2 linked regions of the Homo sapiens genome follow. The protein of the gene in region 1 interacts with the protein of each later gene in a pairwise test. Each region holds a gene or a part of one and is shown in the gene's direction. Other genes may lie near its edges.

The links.
Region 2: the proteins of SFT2D1 (region 1) and ARFIP1 interact in binary tests that used the Homo sapiens proteins (3 or more experiments, as listed by UniProt).

The regions. Positions count from the first base shown.
Region 1 is NC_000006.12:166,339,526-166,347,341, reverse strand, and holds the start of SFT2D1 (vesicle transport protein SFT2A), read left to right. Parts: upstream 1-4,796; 5' UTR 4,797-4,860; coding exon 4,861-4,923; intron 4,924-7,816. UniProt on the Homo sapiens protein: May be involved in fusion of retrograde transport vesicles derived from an endocytic compartment with the Golgi complex.
Region 2 is NC_000004.12:152,866,930-152,873,953, forward strand, and holds part of ARFIP1 (arfaptin-1), read left to right. Parts: intron 1-3,823; coding exon 3,824-3,919; intron 3,920-5,522; coding exon 5,523-5,635; intron 5,636-7,024. UniProt on the Homo sapiens protein: Plays a role in controlling biogenesis of secretory granules at the trans-Golgi network. Mechanistically, binds ARF-GTP at the neck of a growing secretory granule precursor and forms a protective scaffold.

The DNA.
Region 1 (7,816 bases):
TTCTCCCCATAGGATCAGCTCCTTCAGTTCAGGCACCACTTCTTTTCCATTTTCTCTCTCTCTCCCTCTCTCTCTCTCACACACACACACACACACACACACACACTCTCTCTCTCTCTCTCTTTGCATCAACCAATGGGCAAAGGGTGGTAATTCCAGAAGTTCACTAGAGATAATCTCATCTTTCCCTCTTCTTCTTTTTTAAAAATAAAATAAGGAACCAAAGATCCAAGGACTTTCTTGCAAGTGACTTTCTTGCAGTTTCATAGCTGGTTAGGAGCTGAGCAAATGGCAATGAATTAACAAACCCTTGTCCCAAGCACCCTTCTGTGACATCAAGAGTCCCCTCTCACTACCCACATTTCCATCTAGGCATGTTCATGGAGGCAGAGGGCAGTTAAGGGGTAGATTTTCTTTATTTGCATCAAGGCCATTTGTTAATCACTGCAGAAGAATTGGTTGCAAACAAAAAATGGAAGCTTTATACTTTTTCCAGTCTATGCCCCTGCCTTACCTAGCCCAGACACTACATCTGAGGAGTTGAGATTTACAAACATTTGGGAAGTTTTTGCCCTAGAGTTTTCTGTACATTTTAGTAGATAAAGGGGATATTCCAATAAGGAGAAGGTATGTGTTTCGGAAAGTACTTTTCTACTCCTAACAACAAACGCCTCAGAATTTGAATTTGAAGTCCCACTGCCCTGGGGGACAAAGGTCCTCTGAGTCAGAAGCCACTAACCAGATGATCCAGCAGCAGGACTGAGGGTACCAGGGCAAGCACCAGCCCATGCCATCACCCACACAGAGCCCCAGGTATGCTTGACCATTGAGGGCCAGGAGGTTAACTGTTTCCTGGACACTGGTGCGGTCTTCTCAGTCTTACTCTCCTGTCCTGGACAATTGTCCTCCAGATCTGTCACTATCTGAGGGGTCCTAGGACAGGCAGTCACTTGATACTTCTCCCAGCCACTAAGTTGTGACTGGGGAAATTTACTCTTTTCACATGCCTTTCTAATTACGCCCGAAAGCCCCACTCCTTTGTTAGGGAGAGACATTCTAGCAAAAGCAGGGGCCATTATACACTAGAATTAGAAGGAAAAAGGTTAAATATACAGACTCTAAGCATGCTTACCTAGTCCTCCAAGCCCACGCAGCAATATGGAGAGAAAGGGAATTCCTAACTTCCGAGGGAACACCTATCAAACATGAGGAAGCCATTAGGCCCCCCAAATTCTCTTTACCTCTGAATCTACGTCCTCTGATCCCTGCCTAAAGATAATTTTGTGGGGAAGAGGATTTGCTTGTGTCTCTCCAGGTGACACTCAGGTGTCTGTGTGGGTGCCCACCAACCATCTGAAGATCTATCACGAGCCACGGCATCTAGTGGACCCACATGTAGAGTACAGTGCGAATTGAAGGTTTGAAAAGCCTCGATTTGCTTTCTCTATGCCTTCTGTTAATCAGAAAAGGCCTGTTTCTCATTATCAGTGGCCTCCCGGCTACAGCCACAAAAGTTTTTGCTTCTGTTTCAGTAGATTTACTAACGTGGGGGTGAGGGTATGCTTGTGTTTTTGCAGGAGATGAACAAACCGTGTGGATACCCTCAAGATGTGTACGACCATGGAATGGGAGACTGGAGGTACCCATGGATCCCAACCTTGGACCGGGTTCCCCCAGTGTGAGCCATGAGCCAGTTGAATCTGAATGCGAAGAAGGAATGAGGACCGACCGGAGTCACGATGCTTAACGGGCCAATGCTTTCTGACTCAGCTCCTCTCTACCCTGAATATGAGAGACCCTAACAGTTAGACAGGAATATCGTCACCCCTATTCAGCATGAAGAAGTTACAGAAGATGGACCTTCATCCTTCTGCAACCCCTAGGATTAAGGGTCTTCTTGTAAAAGGGAAAGGGGAGATATGTGGGAAGCATTCAAACCAGAGCCATGCTAGTAATAATGATAGCTAGTAATAATGATATCTTCTCTTTTACAATAAAGAGAAGGGGGGCATGCTGGGAAAAAGCTGAGTGTTGGGGGGAAACTGAGGCAGGGCTTGCATAATGTCCTCTGGAATGTGTCTAGACTTGCTGGCTCCTTGCTTCTAGCCTTCCTAGGCTCCTAGGCACCTATTCCCATTATCTCAAGTAGCAGAACATGTTCCATATAAATGCTAAACTGTCACAGCTGTAAATCATGTGCTTAATGCAACATGACCTCCACATTCTCACCACCTGTTTCTTAGTTGGATTACCAATAAACACTGTGGGCTCCCAGAGCTCGGGGCCTTCACAGCCTCCGCAATAGCAATGGCCCCTGTTGTCCCACATTTCTCTCTCAAACTTTTTTCTCAATCTTTTGACTCTGCTGGACTTTGTCACTCCCACAACCTGGTGTTGGGTCTGATCACCCCAACAATTTTGTGCATGTCCTTGTGTTCAGGAGTCATTGGCTCTTGAAAAAACTATGTGGCCAGGAAGCAGGAAGAGCTAGGAAGTAAGGTTTTTTTGTTTGTTTTTTGAGACAGAGTCTCACTCTGTTGCCCAGGATGGAGTGCAAACGAGCGACCTCAGCTCACTGCAACCTCCACCTCCTGGGTTCAAGCGATTCTCCTGTCTCAGCTTCCCAAGTAGTTGGGACTACAGGCGCCCGCCACCATGCCCAACTAATTTTTGTATTTTTGGTAGAGACGGGGTTTCACCATATTGTCCAGGCTGGTCTCAAACTCCTGACCTTGTGACCCACCCGCCTTTGCCTCCCAAAGTGCTGGGATTACAGGAGTGAGCCACCGCGCTCGGCCTATACTTGAAAATCTTGAAAGCAGTTATGTCAGATATGTGAACCAGAGAAGCCCATCTTGAATAGCGGCTGGGTAAAATGAGGTTGAGACCCACTGAGCTGCATTCCCAGACAGTTAAGTCATTCTAAGACACAGGATAAGATAGAAGGTCAGCACAAGATACAGATCATAAAGACCTTGCTGATGAAACAGACTGCAGTAAAGAAACCGGCCAAATCCCACCAAAACCAAGGTAACAAGAGAGACCTCTGGTCGTTCTCATTGCTACACTCCCACTAGCGCCATGGCAGTTTACAAATGCCATGGCAATATCACGAAGTTAGCCTATATGGTCTAAAAAGGGGAGGCATGAATCCACCCCTTGTTTAGCATATCATCAAGAAATAACCATAAAAATGGGCAACCAGCAGCCCTGGTAATAGACAGCCCTGCTCTGCCTATGGAGTAGCTATTCTTTTGTCCTTCTACTTTTTTTTTTTTTTTTTGAGACGGAGTCTCGCTCTGTCGCCCAGGCTGGAGTGCAGGGGCGCGATCTCGGCTCACTGCAAGCTCCGCCTCCCGGGTTCAAGCAATTCTCTGCCTCAGACTACCGATGTTCCTCTACTTTTTAAATAAACTTGTTTTCACTTGCCCTGAATTCTTTTTGCGCAAGATCCAAGAACCCTCTTTTGGGGTATGGATCCGGACCCCTTTCCCGTAACACTTACGGACATACTCTCTTATTCAACAGAAACATAGTTTTATTCTATAGATTTTACAATCTATTTTCTGACCTTTTAAAGTTAAGGACATAAGGATAAGACTTCTCATATTAGTATGAACAGGCCACATAGAAATATCTTCTGCCTAAAGGAAAAGGATGCTGAGCATTGGACCGTTTCATCACAAGAAGGCGCGACTTGCTTTCCTAGGGTTCCTGTGGTATTTGTTTTTATCTAATTGAGTTTAGATAAAATCTCTACTGAGGCAGTAGGATGGACAATGAAACTTTTTGAGGATCCACCTTTTAACTGAAAGATTTTAGGGAGGAAATGGAGTGGGCAAAGTAATCAAAAGAACAGGCATTCTCATTACCATCTTACCAAGCCTAGAAGCAAACAGAAGAGCAAAACCTATCACTTAATGACTTCTGGAGACCATATTAGACAGGCAGCCCTGATTTTTAATCTCCTTTCTTAGCATGGTGGAAAATGAGAGAGAGAAAAATGCCACTTCCCCATTTCTTAGTGTTTGTTCATCCAGCACGAGCCGGAGAACAGTAAACGCTTGTTCAATGGTTTCACTGTTCACACAAAACTGGAAAAATGGGTTGCATTAGCTATTCCTTTTATAAATAAGATTTCACTCTTTCAAACTCCTAGCTGACCAGTGAACTGAGTAAAGAAATAGCTCTCACAAGGGCAAAGGAGTGAGGCAGCCTCTTGCTATTTCTCCTGAGACGGTCTGAAATACAGCTCCTCGCTTTAATCCTGAGGCAGGTGTTTGTGTCTCCGGATGAGGACACCCAGCTGGGAAGGCTAGCGACGCCCCCAGGGCCACCTCATGGGTGGCAGGGCGCTCTTCGGAGCACGGCCACCTGCCCGCAGGAGCCCTCCGCTCTCCGATTCCAGGCGAGGGGAGGCGCATTCGGGGCCTCGACTTCTGGGAACCCGGGGTGCCGCGGACCCGCCCAGCAAGGCCCCTCGCGGGGCCCGGAGGACGCCAAGTGCAGGGTTCAGTGGTCGTGCCCCAGTCGGGTCTACACTCAATGGCTGTGCGCCAGCTGTGGGCAGGGGGTCCACACCCGCGCTGTGTCCCCGCGCGTTACCACGGCGCACCTCGCGGACAGTGGGAAGGGATAGCCCCACCATCAGCGCCCACTCCGCGGACTTCACGGACCACTACCGGGTCCGAGAGAAAGGCTGGTGAGCATGCGCGCATTGCTACGGCGGCCGCGCTGACGCACAGGAAGCGGGCGGGACCGGACTTCCGGCTGGTCTGTGGGGTTTCGGGTTCGGGGTTTCCTGGTGGGCGTCAGGGGCAGGCAACAGAGTGGCGGCCGCTACGGCCCTGTAACAGGGCCATGGAGAAGCTGCGGCGAGTCCTGAGCGGCCAGGACGACGAGGAGCAGGGCCTGACTGCGCAGGTAGCGAACTTGCGCCCTCGTCCAGTCCCGGGGCTGCCCGCTGGCCCCGGCCGCACTGAGGACCGGCCGAGCGGGTGGGGTGGGTGCGAGGCCGGGGGTCTGGGACTCCTCTGCCCGGCTGGTTGATTTAGGAGGGCTCCGCCTGCTTCCTGGGTAGAATTTGAGAACTTTCCAGTTTTCCATGCGGTCTACTTAAACCCACTTTGAGGCCCCCCCCCGACTCTCCCATCTGGCCTTCTGACTTAGGAATCCGCTAACGTCTGCCCTCGCTTTCCCAAATAATCCATCGCTCCCACGTACTATTTGGTTTTCTGAGCCTGGTGCGGGGTCTGGCCTCGGGCTGTGCAGCGTAAGTAGCTATGCAGGGCATTTATCCTGCAAGCTGCAGTGAGCCGAGACCCTAAAGCTTGTTGCATCTGTTTGTCTTTGGAGGTAAAGGTGGTGTTATGTGTGTGTTTGCTGGGGGGTGGTCTTTTGGAAATAGGGAGACTGGAGGAAAAATAAACAGGACATTGGTAAGTGAAATAATATTGAATTAAAATTTTTCTGTTAAGGCAGTGAGCCCTGGTAAGAGATTTTTTTTTTTTTCTTAATAAAAGCCCTTGTGTCTGCGCCTTACCAGCGAGACTTGATAAGGGTTACTTCCTCCAGCAAGAAGGTTAAAAGTAGCAGTGGAGCAGGAACTGCGGTGTAAGTTTTTTTGTTATTGCATGCGATTATATTGCACGTTATTGTGTGCTGTCGCAGAAGTTGGACGTTTAAAATTGAATTGTATTTCATAAGGATCTTCTATTTGTCTCTCCTGACTTCCTTGTCATTATACTTACTCAGCACTTGGTGTGGGTAGAGTTCTGGGCTACAGTTTTGGGTTCAGAGAGTGTAAGACAAGTATCTGTTCTCATTGCACTCTGTAACTCTGTATATTACCACAGCCACATGTGGCCAATGAATTTTTTTTTTTTTTTTTTTTAGATGGAGTCTTGCTTTGTCGCTCAGGCCTGGAGTGCAGTGGCGTGATCTCGACTCGCTGCAACCTCTGCCTCCCGGGTTCAAGCAATTCTCCTGCCTCAGCCTCCTGAGTAGCTGGGATTACAGGCACCTGCCACCATGCCCTGCTAATTATTTTGTGTTTTTAGTAGAGATGGGGGTTTCACCATGTTGGTCAGGCTGGTCTCGAACTCCTGACCTCAAGTGATCCGCCCACCTTGACCTCCCAAAGTGCTTGGATGACAGGCTTGAGCCACTGCGCCTGGAGCAATTAAATTTAAATTAATTAAAATTAAATAAAATTTAACATTCAGTTCCTTAGTCACAGCAACCACATTTCACATGTTCAGTAGGCACATGTGGTTAAAGGCTACTGTATTAAACAGCGCAGATACAGAACATTTGCATTGCAGAAAGTTCTATTGGACAGTGCTACTCTAAACTTTGGAGATGCAAAGGTAATATCACTTATCTTGAGCCCACTGTCTAGAGGGGAGAAAGATATGTGGAGAAGTAATCAATCAAAGATTAGAGTGACTGGCTGTATAGACAAGTGCTGTGAGTTCAGAGGAGGTGATCGTTCATTAACAAATATTCAAGTTCCTGCATATGTTTGACATTGTTCAAGATGCAGGTGTTAATAACAGTGACCAGTGCAAATACCTCTTTCACATGGAACTTAAATTTTAATTGGAGGAAACAGTGAATAAACAAGTATATAATGTGTCAGACAGCCACAGAAAAAGTCAGAGCAGGTTGAGGAGGTTGGGGTTGCCATATTACTTAGATAAGGCCTCCCTGCCAGGGAGTCATGTGAGCACAGCTCAGAAGAGCTGCTGGGATGTCTGAGCATCCTGTGAATAAAAGCCTCCAAGGCAGATACAGAGTCCCAAGTGGTGTGTGGTCAGCATGTTCAGGGCCAGTAAGGAGGCCAGAGGGGCTCTAGCAGCGGGGCAGAGAAGAGGGACAATTGTAGAAGAAAAGGTGAAGCAGGAAGGGGGATTCTCAATTGTGAGGGTTCTCATAGGCCATAGAAAGGATTTTAGCTTTACTCTGAGTGTGATAGGAAGCCTTTGGGTTTAGAGCAGAGTGGTGGTGTGACCGACTTGGATTTTAAAGGATCACTCTGGCAGCTCTGTGGAGAACAAACTGTAGAGGCAATGTTAGAAGCCCAGAGACTGGGCTGGAGACAAGTACAGTTGTCCTGGCAAGAGATGACTGTGGCTCAAATCAGTGATAGAAGTGGTTTAAAGAGCAAAAAAGCCTGTTTAAAAAACAAAAAAGTGGTCAGATTCTGTAAATGGTCTGAGTGTACAGCCAGCAGGCCACACTGTTGACGGATTGGATGTGTGAGAGTGGGAGGAGGCAAGGATGCCTCATGGCATTCGACCTGAGCATCTGGAGAGGTGGAGTTGCCATTAAGTGACTGTGGGAGGAGCAGGTTCAGGGAGGAAAATCATTTCAGTGTGGACGTGAAGTCTGAGATCCAGGTAGCATCCAAGTGGAGATGTGAGGAAAGCAGTTGGACGTAACACTGTAGAGTTTGTGGGAGGAAATAGGAGAGAGATGAGATCGTCAAGATGAGGTCCAAGGTTTGACCTCTGGTTTTCTCTAGGTGTGTAGAAGTTTAGAGGATGAGCAGAAGCCGGCAAAGACAGCTGAGAGGCGTGGCGAGAGAAGGAGGAGGAGAACCAAGAGAGAAGGATGCCCCAGAAAGTGAGGGAAGAGAGTGCTTTAGGAAGGGGATGGGACCCAGTACTGTTGATGGGTCTCAGAAGTTAAGAGCAGATTACCCGTGGAGGTTATCAGTTGTCACTTCCACGAGAGCAGTCTTGGTGGCTGGATGGGGTCAGAGGCCTGATTGAAGTCAGGGGAGAATAGAAAGAAGATGGAGATGGTATGGCCA
Region 2 (7,024 bases), on another chromosome or scaffold:
AGATGGATGGCGGCCGGGAAGAGGCGCTCCTCACTTCCTAGATGGGATGGCGGCCGGGCAGAGACGCTCCTCACTTTCCAGACTGGGCAGCCAGGCAGAGGGGCTCCTCACATCCCAGACGATGGGCAGCCAGGCAGAGACGCTCCTCACTTCCCAGACGGGGTGGCGGCCGGGCAGAGGCTGCAATCTCGGCACTTTGGGAGGCCAAGGCAGGCAGCTGGGAGGTGGAGGTTGTAGCGAGCCGAGATCACGCCACTGCACTCCAGCCTGGGCACTATTGAGCACTGAGCGAACGAGACTCCGTCTGCAATCCCGGCACCTCGGGAGGCTGAGGCTGGCGGATCACTCGCGGTTAGGAGCTGGTGACCAGCCCGGCCAACACAGCGAAACCCCGTCTCCACCAAAAAAACACAAAAACCAGTCAGGCATGGCGGTGCGTGCCTGCAATCGCAGGCACTCAGCAGGCTGAGGCAGGAGAATCAGGCAGGGAGGTTGCAGTGAGCCGAGATGGCAGCAGTATAGTCCAGCTTCTGCTCGGCATCAGAGGGAGACCGTGGAAAGAGAGGGAGAGGGAGACCGTGGGGAGAGGGAGAGAGGTGAGACGGGAGAGGGGAGAGGGGAGAGGGTCTCGAAACAATTACTTGTAAAAGCAATCTTTTAAATATTTTTAATGAAATTATTTAGCTGGCATTTTTCCCCTTAAAGTTATTGTATAATGGTATTATACAATAATTGAAATCAGTTGGCCATCATGAACTGATATACATGAGCATTAAAATGCCCATCAGTTTCACTTGCTTATAGATACATCCTAATCCTTCCAATTGGAATAAGAAAATATATTTCGTGATAATGGCAGTAATATATGTCTCTCTGAACTGAGTTTGTAAAACATTTTAAAATCCAAACTGTATTGTTGATCAGTGTATTAGGAAAATAATCATTCTGCTGCTATACTTAAATTAGTTAAGCATTTGTTGGAAAGTTGTGATTGTTTTAAGATATATGTAGATAAATTGGAATGAACATGAGAAAGAATAACATACAATGGTTACAATCTGGAAAATAGGTCTTATGAAAAAATGTTAAAGGAATTAGGGCTGTGTTAGCTCTCTGGAAAGATGACTAAATGATAAATTATGACTATTGCTTAAACAGTTAACAAGAAGAGTATAACCATCTACTTTTTCATCTATCTAGAGCAAATTAAAAAGTTATACTTAAATTCAGCTTAAAAACAACAAATATTGAAATCGGCCTAGCACCAAAGATGTTGCAGAATCAGTAATAGTGGAAATCATGAATAAATCAAAGCTCACAAGAGTGAAGTGTACTTGGTACCAGGGTTTTGTTTTAATGGGGGTATAAATCTTTGCACATATGTATTCATCTTTCTAGATTTTTGTTGTTGAGATGAAATAGATTTAATTCCCCAAATTTAGCCAGTTAGTAAGATCCTGTATTATTGAGAGATCCTGTATTATTATTTATTTTTTAGTTGGTATTGGTGAATGATTTTGGTAACAGTTGTTTAAAGGGTTAAAGTATTAAAGATACAGAAAAGTGATAATTACCTTTGAAGGTAAATCAAAAAAGCTGAAGTCCCAGTTACAGCCACACTACATCATTTGCTATTTTACTTTGAAAATTTACATATCATTTGTTATATATATTATACACATCCCATGTAGTGCTATGGTTTATTTCTTATGCAAGATTAAGAAACTGTAATAACTAGAACAATAGAGCTCCTATTCCTGGGGTCAAGACATGGAAGTACAGTGGTCTTCTTTTATTTTACACTTTATTTTAGAATCCCTTATGCCTTGGACGGTAGAGATACAGTCTTTGTTTAAAATGGTGATTGAACTGGATAACCTATTAAAATGCCTTCCAACTCAGCAAGTAACTTGTAGATTAGTGATTTCTATATTGAATTTAATAATGGAGATATTATGGTGTTCAGAACATCTGAGTCTCTAATAAGAAACTATTTTAACTTCTCTGGGCTTCATTAATCTTACCGTTTAATGTGACAGTTTAGTTGATTTCCATCATCCCTTCTGGTTTTAAATTTTATAATTTAACAGATTTAAAGAGAAAAATATCTCTCATTTTGAAAGTTAACAACAATCTATTTAGTTTAGGTCTATTGCATGTTTGAATTTTAATGTGAGATCCAGTTCAAGTTAAGGTATATTTTATACTGTTAGAACTCGTGACAGTTTCTATGTCAGAATTTAGTACATCTGGAATATGACCAGTTATTACTAATAGTAAAGAAAGTAGACATGTCTTTCTTATTAGGAAATTTAATTATGTACTTAATGCATGTATTTTTTCCAGAGAACTGGGGAAGAGTGTAATTGAAATAAAAGTACATTATAGACATTAAAATATTCTCAGCTAAACATGGAAGGACTTTAATATTTTTTCAGTTTTAGAAACCTATTACTCCCTTTTTTTGTTTAATGCTAGACATTAGCAACAATGTTGGGTAGTCAGTGTTTCTTTCTTTCTTTCTTTTTTTTTTTAATTGAGACAGAGTCTGGCTTTGTCACTCAGGTTGGAGTGCAGTGGTGCGATCTTGGCTGACTGCGGCCTCCTCCTCCTGGGCTCAAGCAGTCCGTCTACCTCAACCTCTGAGTAGCTGGGACTACAGGCTTGTGCCACCATGCCCAGCAAGATGGTGTTTTGCCATGTTGCCCAGGCTGGTCTTGAACTCCTGAGCTCAAGCAATCCATCTGCCTCTGCCTCCCAAAGTGCTGGGATTATAAGCATGAGCCGCCGCTCTCAGCCAGTAGTTAATGTTTCTTACTTTGTAGCTAATTAAGGCTCAGAGATGTTTAGTAATTTGCCAGGGTGTTCCTGATATCATGTGGTAGATAGAGCCAGAATTTTAAACTCAGTGTTAGAATTTAAAACTTAGTTGTGTTTCATTCAAAAATTGTGTTGTTTCCTCTGGTTCTCAAACTTGGTTGTGTTTGAGAATCATCTTGAGTGGCTTTTGCAAAAGAATAGATGCCTGTTTCACTGATAATCAGTAGATCTTTTTGAGTATCGCAGGTATGTTTTAAAAGCTCCAAAAGTGATTCTTATAATGTCAAAAAATATTCTACATCAGCACTTCTCAAATTTCAAAGTACATACAAATCACCTGGGGAAATCTTATGAAAATGTAGGTTTGGGTTCAGTAGGTCTGGGCAGGGTCTGAGATTTTGCATTTCTAACAAGCGTCCAGGTGAATTGAAGAAGGTCCTCTATGTCCACATTATGAATAGCAATGAGACACACTATGTGACATTTGATTTGTGATTTGAAATTTTTGGCTACAATTCCTGTGAAGGCTGTAGTTCATTCACATTTCTTATAAGAGATATGAGAGCATGTTTTAATATCCCTTACATGCCTTTGAATTTTTACTTGAAGAGCTTTTCCTTTATATATGAGAGTAGCAAGTTATGAAATATTTACTGAAGCTTTAAATCATCCAGCTATGGGACTGTATTCACATTCTGTTAACTGATTTTGGAAATAGTAGAGTCCAGTTAAAATCCTGGTTAGATGTCATCTACCAGATTTCATTATATAGTTACATATTCTGTTTAGTTTTGATAGTTTGATGAAAAGTTTATATAAAAACTGAGCCTGGTAGCATACATTTATTATTAGTCCTTCCCTGAAAGAAAACAAATATATTAATTCCAACTTTTAATCCTAGTGTTTGAATATTTTAAAGGAAATATCAGTAACCCTATATTCAAAATGTACAGTATGTGGAGGAGGAAAAGGATTTTCACAGTTAAAATGTCTACCTTTTCAGGTTCCCCAGCACCGCCACTGCCATCTGTTATGTCTCCTAGCAGGGTTGCAGCTAGTCGACTGGCTCAGCAAGGAAGTGATTTAATTGTTCCTGCAGGTATTCACTGCACTGATTGGATAAAGCACTTATTGCTACTGCTGAAGCTACACTAATTTACTCAGTTTCATAATCACTTGCTTTATATTCTTAGGTGTGTGTGATTCTGACTTTTTTGGTGGCTGCCTTATTAACAATAAAGGAAATAATTTTTCTAACTGTATCCTATCTTTGTGGCTTTTCAGAATAATTCGGCTGTATCTCACACCTGAAACTTAATCCATTTTAAAATTAAAACATTATAAAATTTGATTTGCTTTAAATCATTCTTTCTTTGCTCTGGAAATTGTAGGTTTACTGTTTGATCCTAAACTCTCATCTTTGCAGCTCTGCCTTCTATTTTCAGTTAAAGGAAAAACAACCTTCAACAATTAGGTTGGTTGTTTTTAAGAATGGATTAAATGAAAAAGGTCTTGTCTTCTTACTTTTAGCTTTAACTTACAAATAGTTTGCAGATTGCAACACAATACTGTTAATTTACCAGTTATACCCAATGAAAAATACTTGGGAAAATCAGTATCTTTACATTCAATTTGCTCTGCACTTTACCGTTACTGGACTATAAAAATGGGAGAAAAAATGAACTCCACGTTTCTTCTTATATGAAATGTTAACATTTATATTTTGTTTTGTGAGAATTTTGTAAATTCTTAAATGTGTTCTATTTTATATACCATTCTTGTTCTCGGACTGGTAAAGCTATGGGAAAGATTGGTCTGATTATAGGAATAAGTGAGAGAAGAAATTTTTGGGGATTTTTACTGGGGGCTGATCCTAATTTTTTCTTTTCCTTATTTCATTATTCTTTTTAAATTATTAGAAAGTTTCCATCCAAAAACTGAAATGAAAAATATTTTGACTATGAAAAGTATTTTACTATTAAGAACTATATAGTTGTAGAGTTGCTTTCATATCAAAAATTCTTAATTGTTGGAAGAGTACATTGTCAGGAATTTACACTGCTTCTTTATTCATTATGGCTCTTTTTGGTTTTCTTACCTTTTTTTTGTGGTCTCTTGAGAAAAAAGAGGTACAATATAGATCTTGTTTCAACCCAGCCTTTCATACTAGTGATAGCATATCTTTAATGACTATTTGAATTGAACTACTGTATGAAATTTGAATTATTTTTTTCAAATTCTCCAAAATTATAGCAACATTCTATTGTTGTTGTAGTCTGCACATTACAGTGAAAGATCACTGTGGGGAATACGTGGCCTTTTAGATTTTTATCGACCAAGATACTTCTTTTTTAGTGTCATTAGTGTATAAAATTAGTTGTGGAAATTTTATTTTTCTTGAAGTAAGCGGCAGCTTATATAGAAAATAAGGCTGATTGCAGCAAGAGTTTTTTTGTTTGTTTGTTTGTTTAAAGAAGACAGATAAGTCACATGGCATTTGTGTTTAATGGACAGAAGTGTTGTTTAAGTAATTAGGAAACTATCCTCAGCGATTCCAGGAAGTTCTAGTTCTTTACTTTGTGGGAACCTTTTTTTCTTTTTTTAGATGCATAAGAATTTCAATTTGAACAATATCAGGGTTTTGTTTTCTTTCCCTGCTTGTCTTCATCTGGATTGTGTTTTTATCTTTTGTTATCTTGCAGGTGGCCAGAGAACACAGACAAAAAGTGGACCAGTTATTCTAGCAGATGAAATTAAAAATCCTGCAATGGAAAAGTTAGAACTTGTTAGAAAATGGAGTCTAAACACCTATAAGGTTTGTAATTATTTAATGTTTCCACCCTAAATGGCTCTAAAAAAGTTCATTTATATGTTTATTCAAGTCATTATGTTGCAATTAAATGCACATAGAGAAGAGAAAATGCCATCTAAACATGGTAGAAATACAGTTTGAAAATGAAGTATTTGTTTTATCATTGATCTTTGCATGTAATTTAAGAATTTAGTACAAAAGAGTAAAAAAGCTATTAAAATGCTTATTAACCGATAATGTACATAATTGAAGACATGTACTGCTTTGGAATTTATTTAGCTGTAGAGCTACTATAGATATATTTGCTCCTTCCCCTCCTTTTGATACTTTATAGGAGCTGAAGGTGAAGAGAGGTATATTAGTTCTCCAAAGTTTGAAATTCTCTGATTTTACTATAATAACTAAGCATTAACTATATGGGCAACACCAGATTGCAAATTAGTTGTGTTTCTAAAGTTTGTTAACATTCTTAGTTGCATTGCTTCAGAGTAATTGGTGATTATTTTTCTTATGCCCTCCATAAAACAAATAAGCAAATTATTTAACCCATATTGTATTTGATGTATTACAAACAGCTCAACCCCCAAATCCACTTAGTACCTTTTGAATTTTAACAGGGACAAGACTGTAGAATTCGTGGAATAGTTAGGATGAAAGCCCTAGCAGCTCAGGTTAGAACATTAGCCACAATTCTCCCTATATTCGTGAACTGATTGTGGGTCTAGTGATTGGTAAATTAGGAATTGTCTGTATTTTTATACAGAACAGGCCTTTCTTACATCTTCTCAACAGTAAAACAGAAGTGAATTTATTCTTTCAGTTAATACCTTAAAAATATGATGTAGAAGTCTTCTACAAAAGTATAGGTTTTCTTAAGATGGTAAAACCTCCCTGAAACATGTTACATGAATCTGTCCAAAAATTATTTAGCTCATGAAAGTGTAGAATCTGAGAAATCCCAGTGGTAGTCTTCAAAAAGTGATGCTTGCTTAAACTAAACTCTTCTTCTAAAATATTCACGGATTTCTATTGCATCTTCTTGCTGATTCCACATAGCCAGTCAGTCGTTAAGTCCTATGCATTCTGCCTTCTTAATATTCTTTCACCTTTTCCCCGTTCTCCTCCATCCCAGCCTTCACAGCCATAGTTCATATTTATTACTCTCTCACATTACTGTAACAGCTTCTTAACCAATTCGCTAAGACTACATGTTCGACCCTGCCTAACGTGGGTTCGCTCCTGCTTAAAATCCTTCAGTCAATCCCCACTGTTTTTAGAGTGGCATGAATCTGACCTCTATCTACCTTTCCCACTCTGTCTCTGCCTCTTTTCTATCTATGGATCAAGTGATTCATACCAAATTTCCCAGAAACTTCCTAAACAATCTGTGCT